Homo sapiens: one gene and its partners. The protein of the gene in region 4 purifies or fractionates together with the protein of the main gene of each other region. This does not show direct contact. Each region holds a gene or a part of one and is shown on either strand. Other genes may lie near its edges. The genes, in order: PANK4, CARNMT1, UBE2E2, DTL, COPS3, SHPRH and CCT6B.

Region 1 (4,602 bases), about 210 Mb from region 4:
GCACGGAGAGGCCCAGCAAGGCCAGTGTTCCGTCTGCCTACTCCCCACACCCGGGGGGACAAAACGGGACCTGAGGCGCGAGGGGCACGCACAGCAGGGAGATCTGTTAGAGCAGAGGGAACCGCCTGCGGGCGGGGACCCTTCCGGGCTGAGCTCAGGGACCCCTCGGAATCACAGCAAACCGCGCCTGGCAAGGCAGTGACAGGAGTGCCTCCTGGCGGCTCTCCGGGCTGCCCGCGCTCGGCCCTGAGGCCAACAGCTGGTGGGGGAAGGGGGCTTCCCAGAGGTTTGGTCACCTGTGCTCTTCACATCTGAGCCATGGCCTTCTAGTTCTCCCTGTCCCACAGGCCCCATCCCCTCTGCCATTCTCTCTGGTCCTGTGTTTCCTCTTTGGGCACCAATGGAGGGCAGGACAGCCAAGCAGACACCACCGCCCCGTGGCCCCTTCCTGTCTCACCTGCCTCTGAGGAACCCTCCCCACAGCCCGCAGAAACCTAAAATCAGATCGAAGCTGCAGTATGTTTTGAGAAATACAACGTCCCTGCTGCTTTCAAAGAGGTGAATCTGCTCAGCAGACATCAGCGTCCCATCGAGAGGAAAACAGCTTGCCAGAACACAGGGCAGGTGAGCTTTCCTAGATCCAGACACAGGCAAGGGAAGAGGAAATGGGAGAAGCCTGCTTTTAAACAACACTGTTGACAAGCACTTTGGCTTTGAGGGTTCCTGGGTTGAAGACACCCCACCCTGAGCGTGGCCTCCCAGCAGCTCGGTCAGGAGTAACAAACAAAAGGTCTCTCAGTATCAGTCAACAGGTCCTCTTAAGAACCAGAGACACAGGACCCAGACGCAGGGAGAAACTTTGAAGAGGGGAAATAAATACCAGCACTAAACAGACCTCTTAGAGTATCCTTCTACCAAGAAACCCCCTGGGCTCAGCCTGGAGAACAGGCTGGTACTCCAGGGCCCTCTAGGGCTGCGACAGCCCTTCCTGGACAGCCCCAGCTCTGCGGCTTCACTGGCCTCTCGGGGCCACACAGAACATCCACGGTGAGCCCTGTTCTCCTGGCCATTCCCCAAGTGACTTATGCAGGTCAACTGCAATTGCATTTCAGAAACATTTAATCCCGACTTGCTTCCAGTAACAGAATCCCCCAGTGTAAGGGCAGCAGAACCTTGCAGAGCACACGCTCTACCGGGCCTCAAGGTCTCAGAAGGCTGGGAAGCATGGCTGGGGAGCCTCTGGTGAGGCCTGCGGTAGACAATCCCCTAGGCTAGGGCTGCAAGCTCAGCACCTGCAGCCCAATAACCAGTCAGTCCCAAGTCCTATCAGCGGTCCCTAAAGATGCTACTCACACGTTCTCATACCTGGCACCAGGCCACACCCCCTAAGAAGCATTGCCTCCCATAAGCTCACTGAAAGGTGGGAGCCAGGACCTATAGCTACTTCCATTCTCATCGCCCCCCACTTCCCTAGAGGACACCCTTCCCTGGCTGGACATCTCAGAGAGATGATGACACCAACAACCCCGAGGACACCACAGCAGCAAACATGTCAGATGCACCAGGAGCACACAGCTCAGAGGGAATGGCCTGGGTCTCTCTGAGTCCCAGCTTTTCCAGGGAGGTGGGAAGCAGTCAGCGGCAGGCCCATTCATCCCAGTATTTACTGGGCGGCAAAGACAGGTTGGGCATCCTTTTCGGGGGCTGGGGCTACAAGACACACCGCTGCTCTTGTGGGATTCACACACAAGCAGACTCAGCCTACGACCGAGATGAGTGCTAAGAGGGAGAGGTATGTGAAGCCGCAGCGGCTATTCAAGGGGGGTTTCTCCAGGTGAAGCTGCCCCCAGGAAGCCCTCATGCCTGAAACATGGGCAGAGTAGGAGAGCAGGGAGTGGCTGGTTCAAATCCTGGTTCTGCCACTTTCTAGCCCGATGACCCTGGGCAAATTAGTTCACCTTTCTGGGGCTTGGTATCCTCATCTGCGAAAAGGGAGTAATTCGCGTTCCTCCCCTAGAGGTGGCTGGGAGGTGTCCGGGAGTCAGGAGCGTGGGAAAAAGGTCTAGAACAGAGCCTGGCCCGCCGTCATTACTGAGAGCACAGCCATCAGGCAGGAGGGTCTGCAGCGGACCCTGGAGAGGCCAGGGCAGAAGTGCAGGCCGCCTTAAAGGCCACGGAAGGCACGGGTGGCTTTTAAACCAGAGGCACGAGTTCCCAGGTCCCACGTCCACGGCCGCCTGAACTCACGCCCGGCGTCCACTCTCCAGAGAGCGGGGCCTGTGCACGGACTGTCCGGCCCGCGGGCCACAGCTGGCCACGCCGCGGGAACGCGCGGCCTTTTCGGGGCCACTCTGCCAAGGGCTTCCCGCCGAGCTCGTCCTCGTCTCGACCAGAACTAAGGACCCCAAATCTCAGGCCAGCCACCAGCCAAGCGGCGGAGCCGGGGCGCCCAGATGCCGATGTGGCCGAAGACATAAAATTCCGCCGACCCTCCCACCTCGCGGCGGGTAACGCTGGACCCCGGCCCCCAGCCACCCAGGACGGCCGCGCGAACTACCAGGCCCGGCAGGCCCCGCTCTGGTCCCTGCGGCGCCTGCCGGTAGCTGTAGTCCGGCCGTCGCCCCGAGCCCGCGCATCAGCGACCCTGCGGACTACAAGGCCCGTGAGGCTGTGCGCGGGCCCGCGGACTACAAGGCCCGTGAGGCTGTGCGCGAGGCCCGCGCCCCCGCCCTTCGTCCTTCCCGCCGCCCCCGCTCGCCGGCCCACCGCCGGCGCCCCGCCCGCCCCCGCAGCCCGCGCCCGGCGCCCGGCCTGCGGCTACCTATGTCGATGGCGAAGCGCTTGGCGTTCTCCAGGTTGCGGAAGATCTCGTCGGGGGGCAGCGTGATGCTCTTGTCCAGACTGTCCCCGCTGCTCCCGCTGCCGCTCGCTCCACACTCCGCCATTTTGAAAGTGCCCGGCCAGCTCATCAGCCATGGAGATATATGCGCATATATTTGACTGCCAAACGCCCCCTCGCATAGATTATGTTAATGAGGCGCCGGCCCCGCCCCTTCCCTCCCCCACCCCCGGCCTCTGAGGTCTCGGCCGCTACAGGGCGAGCTAGGGCCAGTGCTGGGCAGGGGTCCGAGAGGCCCGGGGCTGCGGGCGGGCGGGCGGTTATCCTCCAGAGATCGCGCATCAGCACAGAACATCTGGACTGATGTTCTTTTACCGCGCTGTCCACAGGCTTAACTCAAGTGCTCTGAGCCCTGCTGAGGGAGGCCGCAGAGGCCGCCCACCTGCTTCTAAGGGGGCACGTGGGTCTGCAGACTGTCAGAGAGCCCTGCCCTTCAGCGAGTGCCTGCTGTAAGCTTGGCCCTGCACGCCAGGGCGAATGTGATGCGCTCTTTGCTAGGGTGACTCAATCCTGGCTTCCCAGGGGCGTGGGACTTTCAATGTTAAAAGTCCCATGCAAACCAGAGGAGTGGGGAACCCTGCCCCACCTGGGAGGAGCCCCAGCCTGGCATGCACCTGCGGGTAGGGAAGATGTGTGCTGTAATGGCGATCCGTGGAAAGTGCTGTGGTCGGGGGAAGCCAGGCAGGCTGCCTGTGGGCAAGACAGGTGCCTGGGAGGCTGCAGGAACAAGCCTTGGAAGCAGCTGGAGCCAGGACAGGGGTATAGGTGGGGCAGGCCAGGGTTCCAGGGTGAGTGGCTGGGAAGCCCTGCTGGCATGAAGAGATGCGTCTTCTCCAGAGGCTCTGGGCGCCTTGGGAAAAAGCCCAGTGTTGGAAGCAGACAGATCAGCCCCTCCCGGGTAACCCGGGGTCATTACTGCATGTCTCTGGCCCTCAGCCTCTGTCTGCACGTGGAGAATGCCACCAGCTGCCTGGCAGGGCTCCTGGGAGCACAGGCCTGTGGGGCGGCACAAACTCCAGGGATAATGCATCTGTGTGCGCAGGGCAAGCCTTCAGGGAGGAGGCATCCTTGCCTGTGTCTTCCAAGGGGGTGGGTGTGTGGCTCTGGAGGGGGAGCCTGCCCCAGGGAGGCCTGGGTGGAAGAGTGGAGCACACCCCAGGCGGCTTAGACCTCTGGCAGCTCAGACCCCTGGCAGCATGGTGTGCCATGGGCCAGGCTGGCAGGAGGTGCCCTCCATGAGGGGCGCCCACCTGTGTGCCCACTGAACATGCGGGAAACATGCAGGTGAATGGGGGCCTTCCCTGTCCTCTGCCCACCATACCCCGGGGCTCGGTAGGGACCACTGGCAGGCACTGGGTTGGTCTGGTGGGGGGACCCTGTCTAGACTGCCTGTGGAGTAGCCAGAAAGGGGCTGAAGGCTGAGCGGAGCGAGAGGGGCTGAGCAGGAAGGAGCAGGCAGGGCAGGCCCACACACGGGGCTACCATTCAGCGGGGGTGGGAATGCGGCCCACTCCGGCCCAATCCTTGCTGGATGGATTTTGCCCCTTGGGAGCTGGTCCCTGGGAGCCACAGGCCTCAGTTCTTGCAGACTCAGCCAACACCCTGTGGCCTGCCTAAAAATACATGCCCTTTCTGAGGCAAGGGATGGCCCCGTGCAGGCTCCTGCCAGGACTGCCAGATCCTGCCTTGGCACGGTGGCCAGC
Region 2 (3,938 bases), on a different chromosome or scaffold from region 4:
TTTGCCTCTAGGAGGTATGGTGTCTATACAAATGCTGGTGCAATAAAGGCACTTGATCCCATGGAGGACTACCTTCATCATCTGTTCTCTCAAACCTTGCTCCAGAAAAAGGGGACTTTTACTTGCCTAAGTGATGTTTTCCATTATTTCATTCCTTATCCACAACACCTAACATCTTCCATCTCTCCCTTTCTTCCTTCAGAGTACAGGTTGTCCCAGTCTCAGAGTTCAGAGAAAAATAAACAAAAACTTTCTATGTTGTAAAATAAATAAATAAATAAAAACAATCTATGTTGTTGCTATCCCTGCTTTAAGCCCTCCAATGGCTTCCTGTTTCTCTGAGTACAATTCCAAGTCCTTGCTATGGCCTGCCAACAAGTTTGCCTCATCAAACCCTCTCGAGGCTGACCTCTCACCACTGTACCCATTGCTTACTACAGCCTAGCTCCTCCTTGAGCAGAGCAAGCACTCACTCTACTCCCTGATCCTCTTCCCTTGCCATTCCCCATCTGCAAAATTTTGCCTTCAAATATCTCAGTGGTTTGTCTGTGTACTCTTTCAAGGTTCTCTACTAGACATTTTTTTTTTTTAGTTTCTACTCTTAGAAAGGCTTTCCCTGACAACTCTATATAAAGCAGCAGCCTCTCCCCAGTCACTCTGTAACCCGTCTTCCCTGCCTTATTTTTTCTTCCTTACAATATTGTATTTGTTATTGCCTCACTTTCTCTATTGGAAGTTCTCTGTGGACAGGGATTTTGTTTTGTTCACTGTTCTCTTTTGACACCTAGAAAAATACCTAGTACTTAGTAGGTGCTCAACAAATACCTATTGACTCAATGATCTTGCTGAACCCTCGGTATTCTATTTTGCTTTCCTTTTAGTGCCAATCTCCCTCTCCACTTTCCCTATTACCATCTCCCTTTCTCTCCTGCCTAGCTCAGATTTCTTCAACAGTTTGCCAGGCTGAAGTCAACTGTGCAGCCTGACTATACAAGTCCTCCATGATCTGGAACAAATTCACTTTTCTAGCAATAGCTCCTATTAAATCTCATTAAATCTCCCATTAAATCTTTTCTTTCCCTGCCAGTACAGCTGTGCTGCCATCCCCAATCACCTTGTTCATATCTTTGTACTTCTGTCTGCCTCAAATGCTATTCTCTCAACCTTCAAGTCATAGCCTCACTATGAACAGCTTCCTTCTTACACTAATAACCTTTCATTTTTTTGGTATTCATTACTCATTTAACCTTTGTTTACATGGTATCTCTTAGTATTAATGGGCCCAACAGATTCTAAATTTCTTGACTGTAGATATCTTACACTTCTTATTTCCTATCACTGCCTTGTACACGACCTTGAAAACATTCTAAATTGACACTGACATATGCCTTATGTTCTACCATCAAAATGAATGATCTAAACCTTGGCTTAGGATAAAACTAGCTCATTAAATTTAGAATAAAGGACAAGACTTTTTAAACGCTTGATTTGGACTTACTGCATTCTGAATAAATCTCTTGAAAATCTCCTGCTGTCATAGAAAAGTTAGAACCAGGAGGAAGACTGTGGGGGTCAACATCAGGGAAAAAGATGGGTCGAATCTGATCAGCTGATCTCCGGTTATTGCTAAACTGATGGATCCAAGGATAAAGTTTATATTTATTAATTTCAGAACATCTGCAAAATATGAGTATAAAATCAGGTGTTAACTAAATATTTTACCAAGAAAATCCACTTTAAATACTAAAAATATACTGTTTAATTGAAGATTTGCATATATAATTAATATTTAAAGAGTCACTATTACAGCTTCCCTAATTATCTGAAAATGTACATATACATGTAGATGAGCAACCAATCAATGGATTAAAGACAGAAAAAAAAAGTAAATTCAGAGATATAAATGTGCTGTTCATTCAGATTTTTAAAAATGTATTTCTAAACTTCAAAACCAAGTAATAACAGTCCAACGAGGTTTTTTAAAATGGTACTGGTTTCAACTAAAACAGTTTGCTATTTTTTGTATAACCCTCTTCTTTTTTCCCTTTTTCACCAATCCCCTAAAACTCATACTGCCATCCGAGACAACATATTATTTAAACAAGGCAGCTACTCAATGTACATCTTCTGGCTTTAAAAATAACAATTGTTTTCCACTGCCTTCCAAAAGAGGCCACAGAAGTTCTGAGAGATCTTTCCAACTCAGTCATGAGAGCATACTTGGCCATTTTATAAGAACTTGATTAAGGAGAAAAAGTTATAATTGCTAAACTAAACTCTTATTTAACTAAAGAAACAAGGAAGTAAAGAAGCTTAAGGAATAAATTTAGAAATACTCCTTCCTGGTTCATACTTAGTCCTGAAGATTTTGTACAGAAATCATTTCATGGAATGCCCAGTCACTTTCTATAAAGTCACTTACCCATCTTGTTTCAACACTCTAATAACTAGGCAATTGGTTCAAGTGATAATTTGTGTAAGTACTTTGATTTTAACATAAGACACATTTGTGATATATATAATAATCAAATGCTATGTACTTATCTTCAAATTCAAAATTGTTCAAGAAAATAGGTAAGTCAATCTGATTCTGAGAAATTACTATTTCCAGCAAAAAATAAATTAAATACCTGTTGAGTACAAAGTTGGAAGAAAAGAGCATAAAAAAACTCCATTCATTTCCTTGACAAGCATAACCTAGCATAGCTATTTCCCAGGCCAGTCTTCCTAGTCCAGCACCAGGTACCAGAATATTTACTTTAGAAGGATCCCTGAAATGAAATAAGGCAATTATGTCCAACCCCTCAAAGAAAAAAAGGAAAAGACAAAATCCACATTAACAACTAAAAACTTACTCATTTACTCAATAAGAATAAGCTAAGACTCTGACTTCTCACAATCAAGAAATACTTCTAAATATCAAAAATAAAAGGTATAAGGAATTATTATGTATGTTCCGATATCAGATGAGGGTTTTACCCCTCAAAAATTATTTTTCAGAAAAAAGGAGTCCCCTTACATCTCAAGACTTATAAAGTCACTCATATTCCTAATAGCTGTCACCCTGAACAACTATCTTAGAAAGACAAATTATTCCAAAGGGATCCCAATTAAATATGAAGAGTTTGAACAAAAGTACTTCATCATATGGGACAATAAATACAACATAACTTTATTTCTAAATTTTATATGTAACTCAATTGTTTATGTTAGATTAAACAGATGTAGAGTTTAATGTGTCAGGTATATCTCTAAATCCCTATATATTTTAGTTGACAGAAGAATTTGGGGGAGGGGATATTTTCATGGGGAAAATGGGAAACGGCCCTCTAATTAAACATACATGATAACAAATATATTACACCAAACCAGAGGTTCACAACCAAACTGATCTCTACCTACTAGCACCACACTGCCATTACATATTTCCTTCACGTAAGATCCATCATTCCACTTTCAAACCACTAAAAGTTTTACCAAAACAAGGCTTTTTCTCAGGAATTTTGGCAAATCAATATAATCCCGAGGAAACTAAAATTGTAGTCTTATAAGAAGCCAAAGGAAAATGTATACAATCAGCTAATATCATGTCAGGAAGTAAAAAGAAACTTCACTACTGTATTTCCTAAATTTGGTTCACAAATCAAATCCAATTTCCAAATCTACTCCTACTAATGATTTTTTTATCTTTAACTATGTGGCCTTTAAGTTTGGCATGCTCCAAGCAGCAACAGGGCACTTTACTAGTAGCCCATATAACCTTTGCATGTCCCACTTCAAAATAAGAAAGAACACTATGGGGCTTTTGAAAACTCATAGCTCTAGGACTCTGTGCTATTCCTTATATAAGGGAACTGCCATGATGGCATCCTACTCAGACCTAACGCTCTCTCATTTCTCACTCCCTACCAGACCCACCGAAACCCCTACTCTGGAGA
Region 3 (3,938 bases), on a different chromosome or scaffold from region 4:
CAGAGCGAGACTCCATCTCAAAAAAAAAAAAAAAAAAAAAAAGAATGCTCTATCAGGCTCAATAAACACCATCATGAAGTGGTGGCCTAATAAGACCAGCAGTTAGATCTACCTAGACAATTGCATTGAAAACAGAATGATTATTGCTGGTGCACCCATCGACTGGCTGATAACGTTTGGACATCTGCCACCTGAGTGATAATCCTACTAAGTCAAGGTTCAGCTTTTTTCGATTGTAAAATCCAAGTGTCAATGTTGAGGTGACGGCGTTAGATACTATTCGATACTATCTCCCCAGTTAAATTCAACTGAGTAGGTGTTTATCGGTCACCTATTGTGGGCCCATTTGGTGTCCCAAATACTCTGGGTAACAATATCAACAACACATTACCATTTATAAATGGCTTTCACATATACCATCTCATTTTAACCTCAGAGGAATCCAGTGATTTAGGCAGGGCTGGTACTAATCCCAATTTTATATCAAAAACTAAGCCTGTGGAAAGTTAAGTGACCCATCCAATGTGATATGACTAATAAACAATTAAACTGGTTTTCAAATCTACATCTGCTGTCTACAAATATCATGCTGATAAGGATGGGTAGTCATACCCTAAAGAACATCTGTGTTGGAATGGACCAAAAATTCTTTAAAGAGACAAGTGCAAATTACAAAAAGAGTATGAAAAAGATTTAGAAAATAAGTTTATGTATGGATAAGAGTGAGAAAGTATTTTTTAAGTGAGTTAAATTTGTATCATTATACAAGGCCTATTTTTGAGGTGACAGCATTTCCGGGTTAAAATAGCTCTACAGATTCAGTGTAGGAAAATCTTATTTATTCCTATTCTATCAAACTTGTTTTTGTGATAATTTGAAGATAGATTTAAGATAAACTTCAATCTAACCTAATCTTTCCTACCTCTGTAGGTAAAAAAACCTACAGAGATTGAAAGTGTACCAGATAACAGTGTGAAATAAGTCCATTAAGCAAAAGAATGGACATTTGACTACTTTAAAATAAACAACTCTATTTAAGATTCTAGAAGTGTCAACATTCATAAAAACCAATTAGGAAACTTTATTTTTATGTGTTAAAAAGTGTGATAAACTAAATGTTAGCATGTATTTTACAAATTCTCTTCTAGTCTCATATGAGGCAGGCTGTCTTTGGTTTTATGGAACATTATTTTTAGGCTTGTTCTTACTATCAATAGCATTATTTCAAAATCTATTTCTTTTACTTATGTGGTTCTGCTTTAGTTAGGAGTGATTTTTAAGTTTTTGCAGAATGCATTTGTAATTTTCTGAAACGGAGCAAAAAAAAAAAACTAGTTCACTGAACAGAAGTCTTTTTGATTGCTGAGAGAAGGCTTTGGTGGAATGAATCTATTCCTTTAAGCAGGAATATCTGTAGAGAGAACAGGCTGTCATATACAGGCTTATTCAGGGTAACAGATTCCATTTCAGCTGACTTGGAGGCAAAGCAGGCCAGGCTTCGAAATCACCTCAAAAAAAAAAAAAAAAAAAAAGCCTTCTTGCAACATTACCTCCAAATGAGGTTATACAAGGTTATACACAGTCACAGACAAATGGGATTAAAATGGGAACAACAGGACTGAAAGAACAAAATTAACTTTAAATTAGTATAACATTATTGGACTTTACTGTCTGTAGTAAAGTATGAATTAATTCAAAAAATATTTTATAATGATCCTGCACAATTTTATTTTTTGGGCAGGCTGGGTACAGTGGCTCATGCCTGTAATCCCAGCACTTTGGGGGGCCAAAGCGGGCGGATCACAAGGTCAGGAGTTCGAGACCTGGCTGGCCAACACGGTGAAACCCCGTCTCTACTAAAAGTACAAAAATAAGCTGGGCTTGGCGGCACACGGCTGTAATCCCAGCTACTTGGGGGGCTAAGATAGGAGAATCGCTTGAATCCAGGAGGCGGAGGTTGCGGGAGCCAAGATCGTGCCACTGCACTCCAGCCTGGGTGACACAGTGAGACTCAGTTTCAAAAAAAAAAAAAAAAAAAAAATACTAATTTGCTACTTTAAAAAAGATTTTACTGCTGAAAAATAAAGAAATATAAAAGTAGAAAGACTGTTATTTCTTGATGTTTTATAAAACAGCCAGGATCCTAAGCAACCCCACTGATACTCGTCATTTCCATTTGTGTAAAATTTCATGTATCCAGTGAACAGAGTTTACTCATGATTGTAGAAGAGGGAATCTCATGCAATATTTAAGCTATTAATTACTCATAAAATAATTCTCCCACTGAGAACATCAATGAAAACCCTATAGCTATCTTTGGATTTTTGTATTTTCTAAAATAAACCCAATTTGTAAAGACATGGCCCAGGAATTAAGAATTTTCAGTGGTAAGCACACCAGCAAGCCATAAAGGCCTGGCTATAGACTTTTTCGTTTTCTTGGGAGGTGTATTTCCTTGTTTACTTTTGGGGTATTTCCTAGAACAGACCATTCAGGACCGTTATAATAGCTTGTCAGGATGCACAGTTACTAGGATGCCAAAAAGGTCACGTCTGCATGGTGCTGCCTGGTTGTTATCAGATTTTAATAGCCCACATTCCTCAAATTAACATCTTCTAGTAGGCATCTAATTAAAGATTAAGCTATTCAACTTGAATTTTTATTATTATTTGGCAGGATAACTTAATTCATTCTTTAAACGTACTTTCCCATCTAAAATGATTTTTCATTATTTTTTTTACCACACTATACTTTTTCCTTTTTGGCAAATGATAGGTCTTAAAAACACTAATGAGAAGACCCAATTTAAAAAGAAAATAGTTACATACTATGAAAATTTAACAATAATAGTAGTAGAAGCAGTGGTGGTAGTGGTAGTAGCAGTAGTAAACAAGTTACTAAGGGTCTGACATTTAAATCTTGACAAGCTCCAATTCATACTAGATTTAAAGTCTCTTACCAGGGTTGCAATCTGTAAGAAGTGAGCAGATGGAGAGGAGAACTTTAGAAATAGTTAAAGCCGGACTCCAGTTGTCCTTTAAGATGTCCAGACAGATCACACCTTGGCTGTTAATATTACAGTGATAGATTCTTGTTCGGAAGGTAACCTACAAGAAAATGTAAAGTTATATTTTGTTAGACAAAGTGTTTATTAACAGTATCTATAGACAATTTTTGTCTAATAAAATTGCCTATTTTATCAGACAAAATAGCCCAGGCTATTGGTTAACATACACTTGATTTTTTTCTTGGGCACATGAGATTAATCAACAGAGATCATCATTTTAGAATTTGTCATTTTGGGCACAGAGAAATAAACATCAACAGCAAAACCATGACATTCTGCTTCTTATAAAGAGTCCTGTTATTTAACAAATGTTTTAGGGACTGAATTTACTTTTGATACAACTACAGGAATGTTCATGGGGAGAAACTGACTCTGACTTCTAAAAAATTTCAAAGAAAACTTTTGTTAGATTCCAGTTATTTTAAGGATTTTGTACATTTATAATATTCAAACACCAAAAAGCATGAGAGTACTAATACAAAGAAAATAAATATTATTCTATAACAGTTTTTTTTTCTTTTTTTTTTTTTTTGAGATAGAGTTTCGCTCTGTTGCCCAGGCTGGAGTGCAGTGGCGTGATCTTTGCTCACTGCAACCTCCACCTCCCGGGTTCAAGCGATTGTCCTGCCTCAGCCTCCCAAGTAGCTGGGATTAGAGGTGCCCGCCACCACACCCAGCTAATTTTTGTATTTTTAGTAGAGACAGGGTTTTGCCATGTTGGCCAGGCTGGTCTTGAACTCCTGACCTCAAGTCATCCGCCTGCCTTGGCCTCCCAAAGTGCTAGGATTACAGGTGTAAGCCAACATACCCGGCCTATAACACAGTTTTAAAACATAAACTAAGGCATTTATATAAATAACATGCCCAGTTC
Region 4 (3,938 bases):
TGGTCACTTCCTATTATATCCTATGCTTTTCTATCTCTAGACCTTTGCTAATGCTTTTCCCGTCACCTGGAGTGCCCCCTTCCATTTCCACTGGTCTAAATACCATAATCCAACTCAAATGCCCCATGCTTCGTAAGTTTTCCTAGCCTTCTTTACTACATGAGAGCTTTCTCTTTGACACCAGTGTGTTTTCTTTCTACTTCTACATCATTTATAGTCTTTGTTTTATTTCAGTTATTTCAACACTTGACTTATGGGTTCCAAATTATCAGCTTCTTAAGGTTAGAACTTTGCTTTAAACATGAAAAATGCTTGATTAATATAAGTATTTTAAAGCAACACTTCTCTAATCACATTAAGTGTTAAAGATTTAACTTTTTGAAGAATTGTTTTTAATCCTAAAAAGTATTTTTCTTAACTTTGAGTAAAGGCATTGTCACAGTTAACAGTTATTGACAGATAGGCAGTCCACCATTCACATCTAATCTGGTCCCTAAAAAGACTTAATCAGAAGTTAATATCATTGGGAATGTGTTATATATACTACAGATGTTTGTCCCTTCCCAAATCTCATGTTATAATTTAATCCCCAAAGTTGGAAGTGGGACCTAATGGGAGGCATTTGGGTCATGGGGGTGGATCCCTCATGAACAGATTAACGCCCTCCCTAAGAGGTGAAAAGATGAGTGAGTTCTCACTCTATTAGTTCCCTGGAGAGCTGATTGTTAAAAAAGAGCTTGGTAGTACACCCTTCTCTTGCCATGTGACCTCTGTATTCATGGGCTCCTCTTTGCCTTCTGCCAGGAGTGGGGGCAGCCTGAGGCCTTCACCAGATGTCTACTATTCTAGCCAGCAGAATCACACACCAAGTAAACTTTTTCTATATAAACTACCCAGTCTCAGTTATTCCTTTATAGCAACAGAAGACAGACTAAAACAGAATGTGTTCAAATAATAATATACTTGAGGATGTGTAAAGTTTTTTAAATGTTAAAACAAAAATTGTAGACCTAGACTTACCTTTGAAGCACTTCTTTCTGAAACTTTGTGATTCTGTGTTATACAATCGAACAAAGCCTTCTTCATTGGCAACTGCTAGTACATGTTCCATATTGGGAGCTAAAGCAGAAATAAAGAAAAAAATATATAGAGTAACACAATTTTTTTTTTTTTTTTCAGACGGAGTCTTGCTCTGTCACCCAGACTGGAGTGCAATAGTGCAGTTTGGCTCACTGCAACCTCCACCTCCTGGGTTCAAGTGATTCTCCTGCCTCAGCATCCCAAGTAGGTGGGATTACAGGCATGCGCCACCACGCCCAGCTAATTTTGTATTTTTACTAGAGATGGGGTTTCACCATGCTGGTCAGGCTGCTCTCGAACTCCTGACCTCAAGTGATCCACCCACCTCAGCCTCCCAAAGTGCTGGGATTACAGGCGTGAGCCACCATGCCTAGCTACAAAAATTTTTAAGCTTACTCAAAACCACCAAAATTTTCTTCAGATAATCTCTTATTTAGAGAAGGGCTAAATCGAGGGTAGTACTTAAAACAAGAGTGGTACTGGCCAATGGCAAACAAAGGCATATGATGATGTAGGCTGCCAGCAGGCTGAGTCTATTAGTTTTTTTAACCATATTTTTATTTACTTATTTTTACCACAATCATGACTATGTAATAGTCTATTAGTTTTTGAGAGACAGTCTCGCTATGTCACCTAGGCAGGAATGCAGTGGCGTGATCTCAGCTCACTGCAACTTCCGCCTCCCAGGTTCAAGCGATTCTCTTGCATCAGCCTCCCCAGTAGCTGGGACTACAGGCATGCACCACCATGCCCGGCTAATTTTTATAAGGAGTCTATTAGTTTTAAATTTCCTTGTCACAACTTTTTCTTTCCTCTCAAACTATTATGGGTGGAGACAAATACTTCTATTTCTTTTTTTTTTTTTTTTTTGGAGATGAAGTCTCACTGTCACCCAGGCTAGAATGCAATGGCACGATCTTGGCTCACTGCAACCTCTGCCTCTCAGGTTCAAGTGAGTCTCTTGTCTCAGCATCCCAAGTAGCTGGGATTACAGGGGTGCGCCACCACGCCCAGCTGATTTTTTGCAATTTTAGTAGAGATGGGATTTCACCATGTTGGCCAGGCTGCCTTGAACTCCTGACCTCAAGTGATCCACCCGCCTTGGCCTCCCAAAGTTCGGGGATTACAAGTGTGAGCCACTGTGCCCAGACCTACCTTGGCGTCCTAAAGTGCTGGGATTTTAGGTGTGAGCCACTGAGCCTGGCTGAAGTACTTCTATTTCTGTTCATATATTCCCCAATGAGTCACAGAAAGATACATTCAACCAGATCAAAGGGTATGTATCTACTGGATAAAACAGTTTTCATAGTAGCTGAACCTTTGCAACCCCTTCCTTATATTGATTTTTTAAAAATAGTGCTATAATAGTCCTATGCTTTAGAGGAAATATAGTTATGCTAATGATGTATAGAGATTAAGAAAAGTCTATTTTATAAATCAGAAGATAACAGTTTTTACAAAAACTCTAACATCCACCTAATTTACTTTTCTTTGAAAGGGAAATACTCTAGTATATTTTCCCTATAAGTGTGAAATAGATCATTTCTGTCCAAGCCTTGCCTAGATAGTAATTCTCTTACCAGAAGAGAAGGTACATCCAAAAGGAGGAACTGGGACTCCTGTTTCTCCATAAGAAGTGTGTTCATCATTACCACTGCACTGATAACCAGTCAGAAGGGATTGAAGAGGGTATTGTGAAGACCATCCTAAAACAAGATAATTCCTTATAGAATTCCAATACAGCATCACATTTCAGCATTTTTAACAAATTCAGAGGTAAATATTTGTCCTTAAGAAACTTTAGATATTAACATAGATCCACTTACTATTAATATCTATGGAAGACACCATTTCTGTTATTTCATTAAGGAGTCCTAAGGAAAAAATGAAAGAGCACTTCCAACTTCTGGGGAGGTATAGCTTTGGGCTTACTATCTAAAATGGAGACTCTCACTAGTACATTGAGATTAGAAGAAACAAGAGGCCTCTGCATATTAAGAAAGATCTTCCCCCTTCTCCTACCAAAGAGACAACCACAAAAGCATTCCATTAAAACTGCTATCCCCTTCAATTAAATTCTTATTCCAGAACATCATACAAAATCCAATGGTCAAAGAGCCAAAGAAAATAATATGTCAATGCAGCTACTATAGCCAGTAACATATTCACCAAATTTACTTCTGTTTTCCTTTAGTGCTGAAATTGTAGGAATCTAAAATGTCAATAGCAGCAATTATAGTACCTTAAATTATATTAGAGAAATTGTAAAGTGAAGTGTTATGTACCTACCCCTAGAAAACATTTAATTAGCCCTGGCTAGTGGTAGTGGGTCAGGGAGTCTTTACAGGAGGTCTTGAAAGATGGGTAAATTTTCACTGAATTTAGAACAGAGAACAAGAGACTCAGGGTAGAAGAAAAGTTTATTCTGCTTGGGTCAGAGGTCTAATGTGCACTATGCTCCTACATAGTAAAGACATCTTCAGAGATTTGTTTTTATTATACTGATTTGTGATCAAGACATTTTAAATATATAAAATAAACATTCATTCAACAAGTAATTACTGAAAACCAAATGTTCAATAAGCATTGGAGGAAACACTGAGTTTACAATCTATTGAAAGCATCTTAAATAATTAACAAACTCACATTTTAGGGTACTCTGAATCCTCACTTTTCATCAAAAGTACTATGTGGAGAATACATCTTAGCCTGACATAACCTCAGACAAATCTACATTTGGATGTTCATAGACATAATCTGAATGAATCAACAGAAGGGCACCAAAGAAATTTAATCCAAATTTAATTAGTTCTGGGGCCATCACGTCATAATTTCAGCATCACATATCATTGTAAAGG
Region 5 (3,938 bases), on a different chromosome or scaffold from region 4:
GAACACTGGGCATAGAAAACTTCACAAACCTAGAATAAGGAGAAAAGAATCAAATTACCCTGATAGTTCATGGGATAAAATACAGAAACAATGTATGCAAGAAATCCATCCTGCCTCCAATACTCTGTAAAATTAAATGAGCAACAGTATTTTTTAGAATTAAGAACTAGGCCAGGACAGTGGCTCATGCCCGTAATCCAAGCACTTTGGGAGGCTGAGGCAGGAGGACTGCTTAAGGCCAGGAGTTTGAGACCAGTCTGAGCAACATGGTGAGACCCTGTCTCTACTACAAAAAATAAATTAGCCAGGCGTGGGGGTACATGCCTGTAGTTGCAGATACTTGGGAGGCTGAGGCTGGAGGATCACTTGTGCCTAGAAGGTTGAGGCTGCAGTGAGCTATGATCATGCCACTGCACTCCAGCCTGGGTGACAGAGCAAGATCCAGTCTCAAAAAACAAATAAATAAGAACTAGAATCCATGAGATTTTCCTGACCTGGTTATTTTGCACAATCACTATACAGAACGGACACAAATAAGGGTTAAGAAAAATATGTTTAGGCCTGGCGCAGTGGCTCATGCCTGTAATCCCAGCACCTTGGGAGGCCAAGGCGGGAGGATCACCTAAGGTCGGGAGTTCGAGACCAGCCTGATCAACATGGAAAAACCTCGTCTCTACTAAAAATACAAAAAAATTAGCCGGGCGTGGTGGTGCATGCATGCCTGTAACCCCAGCTACTCGGGAGGCTGAGGAACTGCTTGAACCCGGGAGGTGGAGGTTGCAGTGAGCTGAGATGGTGCCACTGCACTCCAGCCTGGGCAACAAGAGCGAGACTGTCTCAAAAAAAAAATCTATATATATCTATATATATATATATATACACACATACACACACATATGTTTAATAATATATATTAAATAATAAACATGTATATATTAAACATATATGTTTTATATATATATATATGTTTAATAAGGAACAACTTTCAAGATGAAAAATTCCACTAAATGAAGCCAAATAGGCTGGGCATGGTGGCTCAAGCCTGTAATCCCAGCACTACGGAAGGCCAAGGTGGGCAGATGGGCAGATCACAAGGTCAGGAGTTCGAGACCAGCCTAGCCAATATGGTGAAAACCCATGTCTGCTAAAAATACAAAAATTGGCCAGGCACGGTGGCTCACGCCTATAATCCCAGCACTTTGGGAGGCCAAGGCGGGTGGATCACCTGAGGTCAGGATTTCAAGACCAGCCTGACCAATCGGGTGAAACCCCATCTCTACAAAAAATAGAAAAATTAGCCGGGCGTGGTGGCAGGTGCCTGTAATCCCACCTATTTGGGAGGCTGAGACAGGAGAATTGCTTGAACCCAGGAGGCAGAGTTTGCAGTGAGCTGAGATCGTGCCACTGCACTCCAGCCCGGGTGACGGAGTGAGACTCGTCTCAAAAAAAAAAACTCCTTTATGTTTATACAAATCCTGAAAATTTGTTTTAAAAAATGGCCATCTCAATTGTGGGGACTATAGTTTGCATTTATCTGAATACTTTTATCCATGTAATCCACAGGAATGTCCACATTTTCTAAATTAAAAAGAAGTTCGGAGGAGTACTGCCACAGGGCATGGCAGAATACATTGAATGAAAATATTGGCTGGGCACAGTTGCTCATAATCCCAACACTTTGGGAGGCCAAGGTCGGAGGATCATTTGAGGCCAGGAGTTTGAGACCAGCCTAGGCAACATAATATGGCCCTATCTCTGCAAAGAATAAAAATATTAGCTGGGTGTAGTGGTACATGCCTATAGTCCTAGCTTCTCAAGATGCTGAGGTGGGAGGATTGCTTGAGCCCAGAAGTTCAAGGCTTCAGTAAGCTACAATTAAGCCATTGCACTCCAGCCTACATGACAAAGTGAGACCTTTTCTCAAAAAAAGAAAAAGTATCAAAGATCCAAAGCAACATTGCTTAGAATTCCCTTCAAACAAATTTAAGCTATTTAAGACCAAATTAAATAGACCTTATTTTAATTGGGGTTCCTTGTAACCGTGTACTTGACAGTAGAATTCTTTTTCTCTTGATGTTATAGTATTATAAATTGGGATATTGTGGTTGTCATGACATTTGAAATGATATAAATAAACTGAGAAGAAATTGACTTAAAGTGAGAGTCTGGCTTCACTTACGCTGGGATTCCTGAGACAAAGGTATGTGTCCGGAGCAGAGTTTAGAGAAGAAGCTTTGTCAGAATGGAAGGATCTAGAGTTATGCTCTGCAGTATGGTGGCCACTAGCCATATGCAGCTATTTAAATTAAAATTAAAGATTCAGGTGCACTTGCCATGTTTCAAGTACTCAGTAGCCACATGTGGTCACATGTCCTTGTCTTAGCACAGGTTTGTAACATTTCCACCACTGCAGATAGTTCTATTGGACAGTGCTGGTAAGGATTTCTACTGTCTGTATTTTCTTATTTATATGAAAGAGCAGATGCTGGGCACAGTGGCTCACACCTGTAATCCTAGCACTTTGGGAGGCTCTGTTTGAGACCAGCCTGGGAAACATAGCAAGACCCCATCTCTACAGAAAAAAAAAGTGGCCAGGTATGGTGGCTTATGCCTGTAATCCCAGGACTTTGGGAGGCTGAGATGGGCAGATTGCTTGAGCTCAGGAGTTCAAGACCAGCCTGGGAAACGTGATGAAACCCTGTCTTTACAAAAAAACACAAAAATTAGGCGGGCGTGGTGGTGTACACCTGTGGTCCTGGCTACTCAGGAGGCTGAGGTTGGAAGATCACTTGAGTCCATGAGATTGAAGCTGCAGTGAGCTGTGCTCATGCCACTGCACTCCTGACTGGGTGACAGAACAAGACCTTGTCCCCCCAAAAGAAAAAAAGTTAGCTGAGTGTGGTGGCACATGCCTGTGGTCCCAGCTACCCAGGAGGCTAAAGTGGGAGGACTGCTTGAGCCTGGGAGGTCGAGGCTACAGTGAGCTATGCTTGCACCACTGCACTTCAGCCTGAGTGACATCAAGACCCTATCTCAAGAAAGAACAGAGAGCATGCATGTTTTATACACACATAAACTCACATAAACATATATATCAGGTGAGTAATGGACATGAATGCATTTTGAAGGTATAAGGTGTTTACCGTTGTATATGTTAGATAAGGTATGGAAAGAACCCTGAGCTTCTGGCTGAGGACCCTGGTTTTGAATCTACATATTCTTCCAATTTTGAGTTGTGGGGCCCTGAGCTTCATATTTTTATTTATAAACTGGCAGTCGCAATGCCTCACTGACCTATTGTGAACCCCAGATGAAATTGTTTCTGACATGTCTTGATAATTACAAAGTGTAAATACAGATGTATGGTGACATTGTTAAGTCAAATAATACAGTATAGATGGAAGCAGATAAACCAAAAGATGTAGTAGAAATTATGATTAGCTTTTCTTTTTTTTTTTTTTGAGACAGAGTCTCACACTCTGTCACCCAGACTGGAGTGCAGTGGCGTTGTCTCAGCTCACTGCAACCTCCGCCTCCCAGGTTCAAGCCATTCTCCTGCCTCAGCCTCCCGAGTAGCTGGGACTACAGGTGCATGCCACCACACCCGGCTAATTTTTGTATTTTTAGTAGAGACAGGGTCTCACTATGTTGGCCAGGCTGGTCTTGAACTCCTGAACTTGTGATCCACCCGCCTTGGCCTCCCAAAGTGCCGGGATTACAGATGTAAGCCACTGTGTCTGGCCTAATTTTTCTTGAAATTACATTTCAATCGTGCTTTTTTTTTTTTTTAAAGAATTTGAAATTTACTTACAACCAATGCCTTAATAGTGCTAAGTTTACATGATTTCTCCCCTAAAACCTATCACCAGTGCCTCCTTGGAGTGTTTCTCATGGCAGTCTGAGTTACTTGGGAAGGATCACCTGAGTCCTCCCTCTTC
Region 6 (3,938 bases), on a different chromosome or scaffold from region 4:
TGTTGCAGACTCAATAACATTACGAGATGGAGGTCCCTCCAGGTTTTTTACAGCCTCTCTTACTAGCTTCTGGCATTTATTTAGCTCTTCCATTTGTGTTGTAAGTAAGAACTGAAGACCTCTGCAATCACGGAACCTGATTCCCACACCAGCACCACACACAATACAAAGAAAAGAATAATAGGTCAATTTCCTCAAATTCAGAGAATGGTTGCCAAACAAAGTGTTAAAGAAACTGTTTGCTGTTTTTTTTTTTTTTAACAGCAACATTTGAGTGAGTTTTCCTTCAGAATGTATTCAAAGTATAATATTGGGCTGTCTACCGTAAAAGATACCAAAAAAATTTGATAGTCCTGTGCTCAGGAACTGAAAAAGAGCATGAAAAATGTATGTCTGTCTCAGATATCTTTGAAAGTGTACGACTGCCACATTCTTCCGTTTTAAGCCTGACTACAGATAGCCTTCCTGACATCCTTGCTCTATATGAGGAGGTGCCTGCAGGATGAAACATAAAAGCAGAATATTGGGAAGAAAGAAGAAAAATGGCTAAGAGTTATATTCCTTGGTTGAATATATATATATATGTATATATACTTAATTAAATCTGTAATTATGCACTATATACGAGGCACTTTGCCAAGCACTTTTCCTGTATAATTTCAATAGTTACTAATGTGCTCACATTATGAAGTGTAAAATATTAAAGTAACTAAAGTAACAAAGGTAGGTCGCAGTTAGGAGTTAAACCCAATTATAGTACCTATAACCATTTTGATAAACTGTGAATAAAAAAGGCTGCAAAAAAGAAGTATGAATGTGTCTGTATAGGTTTATGAATGGAGAAAAAAAGCCGGTAATAATGAGAAATTAGAAACTAGAAAATACAAGGATTTCTTTGCTTTTAAAATTATGAGTAGATACTTTTTCTTCCTGTTTTCTTACTTCTCTGACATAGAAAGCTTGCCAGTTTGTTGCTTGTAGTTGCTGGTTATTTCATTTCGCACTCGCTGAACTAGCTCCTCATCAATAGTAAATTCTATTGCTCTGTGGATCACATTTAGCCACCAAGGAGAATTAGAATGAATCTGTAAAAAAGGTAGCAGTTAATCAATTAATACATTTTTTTTAGTACTCACTAAGCTTCCATCACTGGGCAGGGTGATGCCAAAATTCAAAGAAAGTAATAAATGCTATTCTCAAAGGGACTATCACAGAGGGGAGACGAGTATACATATTCCATGTACAATGCTCGCTTCCTCTTTTGAAAATATAATTAAAGAGAAACCCCTATTTCCTAACTACTCTGGATAAATGGGAATTTATTGAATGCATTTATATAACAAAGCTGTAACTAAAAAAACTGTTTACGCCAAATGAAAATTCAATACTCAATCTATATGTGTGAAAAGGTCACAGGTCTCTTTATCAGCATAAGAAAGAAAGCCTTCATTCTAATCTTTAACTAACTGAACCAGATTCTACTTAATGAATAATCCACAATAACTCACAAAATTATATCCCAGAATACTAAATAATGAATGAATTAGAAAGACAAAAATTTGCAACACCTGATTTAAAAACTGAAAATAAAAGTGTATTTGTGTAACCTCTTTAGATTTTGCTGCTGATTTCATAAAACTGAAATTTTAGAAATGACAAGTGGTATATATTCTGCAGGAAAAATACCTGTGGTTCTAATGTATTAACATTTTAAAACATCTCAGAAACAAGATAAAAAGGAGGTTATAGAAGTCTTTACTTTCTTCAAAAGACAACTGTTATATACTCATGGTAAGAGAAAACCCATGAGTTCAAAAGAAAGAGAACTCAAAATAGTTGACTTATTTATGCATCTGTTCACTCAACCAATAAATCATTGCTAACAGTAAAATAAACTTGTATTGTGGGTCAGGCAATGTGCTAGGTGCTAAGGATTTCAAAATGTATAAGAAATTCAAGTTTCTCCCCACCAAAAAACCAAAACTCAAAATGATATCTGGAGGCAAATACAAGTAAGAAACACTGCATTTTGGCATACCTTTCTTTGAAGCTCATGGATGGTCTGCTGCACAGGATATAAAGCTTGCTGGGCTTCAGCAACTTCTGTATTACACTTGCTCATGTAGTGCTCTCGCAGCTGTTTGGCCTGTGTTGAAACAGAGAATATAAACTTTCACTCCCAATCTAGAATATAATTCAGTATGATGTTTCAAGAAGAATGGGTCATTTTATACATTTAAAGCTACTTAACTGCATTTAAACATAAAAGTCCAAGTATACTGTAGAGAACATAAAAGTCACGCTAAAAATTCCTTATATATGGAAGTTAACAAAATTTACTTGTCCAAGTAACAAAATTTCAGAAACACCGAATATTTGTTTGCCAATTTCTTATTTAATTTTTTTTTTTAGTTAGAATAAGCAAAGAGGGGAAAAAAAGAACAGTAATATTTCAAATGATAGGCAAAGCAAAGACACCTTTCTAAAATTTGGCTAATTTAGTTATTAAAATTCCTTAGTTACTGCAGTTTAAAAATAATCCTTGAGAATACACAGTAACACAGGTGTTAGGAACTGAATTTTGTTTCCCCAAAATTCATATGCTGAAGCCCTAAGAAAGTAGATTTTAAATGTTCTCACTACACACACACACACACACACACACACACATGCATGCAATAAAAATAAAGAGGTAATTGATTTAGTTTGATTTAGCTATTCTAGTGTCTACATACATCAAAACATCAGTCTCTACTCATGAATAGATAAAATTTTTGTTAATTAAAATAGTTTACCAGGGCACCTCCGCCCCCAAAACAACCAGTGCAAAAAGGCTGTGCTTATTTATATAATCTCATTTTTTATCCTGTTGACTCAAATAAAGCCTCCACTTACAGGTTCAATACATTTCAAACATACCTACTCTTTTGATTTTAGCTCTTTAATGTTTAACAACAGCAAAAATCCCTGGAAGAATCTGCATAATAAGCTATTAACAATTTATAGTAAAATAATTTATAATATCACTCTTTTCGATGTCATTCTTTTCAAAAAGAGGCGACACTTTTTGTAGAGGAAACTTCTTTGGGAGAACTACCACCAAAAATTTGACTTTATTTACCCCCTTAAAAAATACACAGAAATGTGGAGAAAGTGCAAAAGTTTGTATATTTACTAAGCTACCTCTTTTGTAGATCTGCCATGAGATCAAAGTTTCTTTTTTAAAACTCATTTATTTACATCCCATTCTGTTGGCTACCAACAGCCATATCTACAACAAGCATTTATCACATAACTGCAGGTAGATCAGCAGAGAAGCCAAATAATACGTACTGCTGCCATTCTCTGCTACCCAAAATCACAACAAAATTCGAAACATCAAAGTAACAGGAAAACATGATTACATTTATTTGTATGTTGTATGTCCTAGGATATATCAACTATATGGAGCATAAAGTTTGAAGAAAATATACTTTTATAGACAGAATGAAAAAAATAATTACCTCTTCCTCAAGTCGGCCATCACGCAAGGTAGGTGGTATCCCTGGGTGCCTGGCTATCAACAATTCCATCAAGTTATGGGTAGCATGAAGTCTCTACAAACATATCAAAGGCAGTAATTATGACAGTCAATGCAGAAGACTCTGAAGAGAACCTAATATTAATATGGCACACAGAACACTAACACCACATTAAGATCATATCACCAAATACTTTTCCTATAAAAAAATCTGAGTACTACTACTTTGTTTTCTTTACTCAAGGGCAGGGTGTTAAGGTCTAGGACCTGCCTTTTGTAACCCTTATCCATGCAGAATATCAGATTTATATTTAATTTTTCCTCTCCCTCCACTTTTCCATATGTTCCTCTAAATATCCACTCTGGTACTTGTGAACATGTTAGTCAGTCCCAAGGTCAATATTGTGAATGGTAATGA
Region 7 (3,938 bases), on a different chromosome or scaffold from region 4:
TCTTAATCCAAACAAAACTGAAAAAAATCTGAGACAACTGTTAGACAAATTAGACTATAAACTGGAAATGTGATAGTATTAATGAGTTATTCATTTTTAAGGTGTTATAATGTTTTGTGGATATATTAGGTAAAAGCAGGGGGTTTATGTTTTATGGATTATATGATATTTACAGGTGGTATATGATGTCTGGATTTGCTTCAAAATAATCCTAGGTGGGAGGGGGAAAGAGGGAAGGGTATGCTTCATATGTTAGAAATTGATAAAGATAGCTAACAGTTATGTGGAAATTCCCTATTCTGTTCTCTCTATATATGTTCACAGTTTTCTATAATACAAAGTTTTAAAAGAGTAAATCCAAAATCAACATGGTACTCCATAATCTGGTCCCTTTTGCCTCACCTCCTCTCCCTGTGCTCCAGGCACACTGTAACAACCTAGTCACACTTCTGCCTCAGGACCCTTTCAGAGGTCATTCCTTCTGCTTAGAACCCTCTTATTCCAGATGTGCACATGGCTAGCTCCCTTGTTTCTTCAGAGACCTCTTAGCTCTCCAGGTTCTTATCAGAGTAGTCTTCCCTGTCCACTATAAAATCACACACATGATTTTTTTTCTATTTCAATTAGAAACATAAACTTCTTGGGGAAAGAAATTCTGTTCTGTTTACTCTCATTCCCATTACCTAGAGCAGTGACTTAATATATGGTGAATGAATATATTTATGTTGAATAAAAGTAAGTAATGAATTTAATAAAAGAATATCTTTAAAAAATTCTAGAACCCATATGTTGTCAAAGCTTATGTAATTTACTTTGTATCTGTTCCTAATTTATGCTTCATCTCCATTATTTCTACCATGAAGAGATCAATAGGGTAACCTGGTCTTCTAACAGCCAAAACAGAATCCACCACAACCTGAAAGAGAAATGAATGAGAACAGTTAAGTTATTTGGACTACTAAAATAAACCAAGGGCCCAAACAATCTATCACCAGACTAAGGAGATAAAAGCCTTCAGGATTCAAAACCTAGGGCAAGACCAATATGTGCCACTTTACTATGGATGCTAACAATAGCCAATGCCAACAGACACTTTAGAGTCTAAAGAAACTTCAGAGATCATTAGGTCCAAACCTTTTATTTTACAGATAAGGCAACTGAGATAAGACCTTAAGAAGTCACAGTTTTTAAATAAGATCTAACAGCTAGTAACAGGGCCGGGACTAGAATTCAGGGCTCCCTAACTGCCCAGCGACTACTCTTTCTATCATACCAAGACTATCCAAACTTTTCCACCAAAGGACACCTTAATGGAAAAGAAGGAAAGGTAATCTAAGGTAATAGCTCCAATTTGCTGGCTGTAATAACAGGAAACGTTAAAGTCTCATGTTTTATCGTGAAAAGTTTCCATGTCATCCCATAATATGTTTATCTCAATGTAAAAATAATGTTTTCCCCCAAAATTGTAAAGTAAAATTGACACTCCAGAAAGCTACGTCTCATTTATTCTGTCACATATGACCAGGGATATACAATTTAAGAAGCATAGCACAACACGTCTTATTGCTTAGCTCAGAAAATGATATAAAAATAATAAATAACTGCAGAAATTAAGGGCTAAGTTATAACTACCCTAAAATATACATAAAGCAGAAAAAACTGTATCTTAGAAAACTTTGCCTGAGGTGACATAATATTTTATTTTAGAGGCAAATAAGAAATAGGACAAAGGCCATTGGATAGTGAGAATATCACTGTTTCTGTAACTCTAAAACAGAATGGGTGCCCTAGCAGCATGAAGATTTGGGGCCATTCAAGTACTCTAACAGCAGAAAACACAGCAGAGCCTTTCTTCTGACTCTGCTCATCAAGAAATTGTCTGATCTTAATCTGATTTCCCAAGTTGTTTTTTTTTAACGGTAAGGAGAATCGATCAGAAACAACTCAAGTATTCCAGTACATTTGGCATTTGTAGTTCTCAAAGTAAATTATTAAGGTAGTATTCTGCTTTGTATGTCAATGTCTTGTGAATTTGTTTCCTAAGAATTTATCATTCTTCCTGGTAAACAAATATATTCAAGTTTCAGAAATTACAAAGCTGAAAAACAATAATGATATCAAATCATTGCCACCTGATAAAAGCCTTCCCAAAATATCCAGCCAATCTTGTCTTTATATAAAATATATATATATATATATATATATTTTTTTGAGACAAAGTTTCACTCTGTCACCCAGGCTAGAGTGCAATGGCATGATGTCAGCTCACTGCAACCTCCCCCTCCCTCCCAGAGTGATTCTCCTGCCTTAGCCTCCCAAGTAGCTGGGATTACAGGTGCCTGCTAACATGCCCAGCTAATTTTTGTATTTTGAGTACAGACAGGATTTCACCATGTTGGCCAGGCTGGTCTCAAACTCCTGACCTCAGGTCGTCTCCCCACCTCGGCCTCCTAAAGTGCTGGGATTACAAGCATGAGCCACCATGCCCAGCCTATATAACATATATTCTACCTTTAGAAATAAACAAAACACTGGCCAGATGTGGTGACTTCATGCCTGTAATCCCAGCACTTTGGAAGCCCGAGGTGGGTGTATCATTTGAGGTCAGGAGTTCAAGACAAGCTTTGGTAACATAGTGAGACCCCATCTCTACTAAAAATACAGAAATTAGCCAGGCGTGGTGGCACGCGCCTGTAATCCCAGCTACTCGGGAGGCTGATGTAGGAGAATCGTTTGAACCTGGGAGACGGGGGTTGCAGTGAGCTGAGATCATGACACTGCACTCCAGCCTGAGTGACAGAGTAAGACTCTGTCTCAAATAAATTAATAAAAGAAATAAACTAAACAAACATACATTTCCAATATGTGAATATTAATATATTAATATATCATATCACATTTCATTATATTGGTAACCTTATCTACAAGGTACACTGCTAAAACAACTATCTTGTGTGTCACCTCACATAATAAAATATGGACTGCTAGATTTAAAAAGACCAGTATACTATTCAAGAGCTTCCACAGGAGATGATCTGCAGGCAGCCAAACCTCTCCCACCTTTCAAGTCACGTTTAAAAAAAGGCCTAGTATGATACTTCTGAAAATTACAAATACTGTTCTGACCAGTCAAATCTAATCTACAGTTAGGCCTATACAATAATTGTCTGTCTTCCATATTTTATGCCCAAAAAACCACATGAAATACTTGATTATCTTACAGAAAAAGAAAAATATCACCATGCATTAGGCTATATTTGTTCTGAATGCAAAAGTTTAATAACATACCTCTGTTAAGACATCAGCCAGTTCAGCATGAACTTTAGTTTGTAATGATGTTCTAGCTACATCTAAGAGGATTTTTCTTTTCATCTCCTTTGTCACTTTAACTTCCTCCAAAACTTCAAGTGCTTTTATCTTTGCAGCTTCAAATCCTTCAGCTATTATTCTAGGGTGCAGGCCCTGTTACATCAACATAAAATTATAAATTATAAAATAAGTCACCCAATGTAAAAGTAACCAACCTGTCTGATTATTATGTTCAAAAAAAGTTACTCACATTAATGCCATGAAATATAAGTGTACATAATTTATAAAAGTCATTTTAGTGCTTCATACTTGAAATAATCTCAACCTTAACAGTAAGGCTTCAAGTCTAGTATTAAAAATTACAGAAGTCCTTTTTATTTCCAAAAATTATGACTACATTGTTGTTATGTGGTGCCCTTCTGAATGGGCACACATAAAAAGATTCCTTTCAATGCAGAGGAAAAGAACCACCACTGAATTGGGGAAAAGTGGCAGATAGAACACTGTGGTGTCTACCACTTCACCAAGTGATCAAAGTTAACATCACAATAATGAGACAGACAGGCATCACATGCCTGCTGACATGATGCATTCAGTAGAACACAACAGTTCTATGGTATTTTGGCCAA

The links.
Region 1: the proteins of DTL (region 4) and PANK4 purify together in Homo sapiens (affinity purification with mass spectrometry, with the first as the bait; one large-scale study listed by BioGRID). This does not show direct contact.
Region 2: the proteins of DTL (region 4) and CARNMT1 purify together in Homo sapiens (affinity purification with mass spectrometry; 4 studies listed by BioGRID and IntAct, with this or other methods). This does not show direct contact.
Region 3: the proteins of DTL (region 4) and UBE2E2 purify together in Homo sapiens (affinity purification with mass spectrometry, with the first as the bait; one large-scale study listed by BioGRID). This does not show direct contact.
Region 5: the proteins of DTL (region 4) and COPS3 purify together in Homo sapiens (affinity purification with mass spectrometry; 2 studies listed by BioGRID). This does not show direct contact.
Region 6: the proteins of DTL (region 4) and SHPRH purify together in Homo sapiens (affinity purification with western blotting, with the first as the bait; 2 studies listed by BioGRID). This does not show direct contact.
Region 7: the proteins of DTL (region 4) and CCT6B purify together in Homo sapiens (affinity purification with mass spectrometry; one large-scale study listed by BioGRID and IntAct). This does not show direct contact.

Annotation. Positions count from the first base shown.
Region 1 is NC_000001.11:2,523,643-2,528,244, forward strand, and holds the start of PANK4 (4'-phosphopantetheine phosphatase), read right to left. Parts: upstream 2,955-4,602; 5' UTR 2,946-2,954; coding exon 2,822-2,945; intron 2,551-2,821; exon of another isoform or gene 1,959-2,550; intron 1-1,958. UniProt on the Homo sapiens protein: Phosphatase which shows a preference for 4'-phosphopantetheine and its oxidatively damaged forms (sulfonate or S-sulfonate), providing strong indirect evidence that the phosphatase activity pre-empts damage in the coenzyme A (CoA) pathway.
Region 2 is NC_000009.12:74,997,100-75,001,037, forward strand, and holds part of CARNMT1 (carnosine N-methyltransferase), read right to left. Parts: exon of another isoform or gene 2,778-3,938; intron 2,772-2,777; coding exon 2,631-2,771; intron 1,678-2,630; coding exon 1,499-1,677; intron 284-1,498; exon of another isoform or gene 221-283; coding exon of another isoform or gene 156-220; exon of another isoform or gene 1-155.
Region 3 is NC_000003.12:23,531,723-23,535,660, reverse strand, and holds part of UBE2E2 (ubiquitin-conjugating enzyme E2 E2), read right to left. Parts: intron 3,108-3,938; coding exon 2,960-3,107; intron 1,509-2,959; coding exon of another isoform or gene 1,447-1,508; exon of another isoform or gene 1-1,446.
Region 4 is NC_000001.11:212,041,841-212,045,778, reverse strand, and holds part of DTL (denticleless protein homolog), read right to left. Parts: intron 2,787-3,938; coding exon 2,661-2,786; intron 1,120-2,660; coding exon 1,021-1,119; intron 1-1,020. UniProt on the Homo sapiens protein: Substrate-specific adapter of a DCX (DDB1-CUL4-X-box) E3 ubiquitin-protein ligase complex required for cell cycle control, DNA damage response and translesion DNA synthesis.
Region 5 is NC_000017.11:17,270,980-17,274,917, forward strand, and holds part of COPS3 (COP9 signalosome complex subunit 3), read right to left. Parts: intron 30-3,938; coding exon 1-29. UniProt on the Homo sapiens protein: Component of the COP9 signalosome complex (CSN), a complex involved in various cellular and developmental processes.
Region 6 is NC_000006.12:145,922,701-145,926,638, forward strand, and holds part of SHPRH (E3 ubiquitin-protein ligase SHPRH), read right to left. Parts: intron 3,597-3,938; coding exon 3,504-3,596; intron 2,147-3,503; coding exon 2,039-2,146; intron 1,086-2,038; coding exon 943-1,085; intron 137-942; coding exon 1-136. UniProt on the Homo sapiens protein: E3 ubiquitin-protein ligase involved in DNA repair.
Region 7 is NC_000017.11:34,951,138-34,955,075, forward strand, and holds part of CCT6B (T-complex protein 1 subunit zeta-2), read right to left. Parts: intron 3,463-3,938; coding exon 3,289-3,462; intron 917-3,288; coding exon 813-916; intron 1-812. UniProt on the Homo sapiens protein: Component of the chaperonin-containing T-complex (TRiC), a molecular chaperone complex that assists the folding of proteins upon ATP hydrolysis.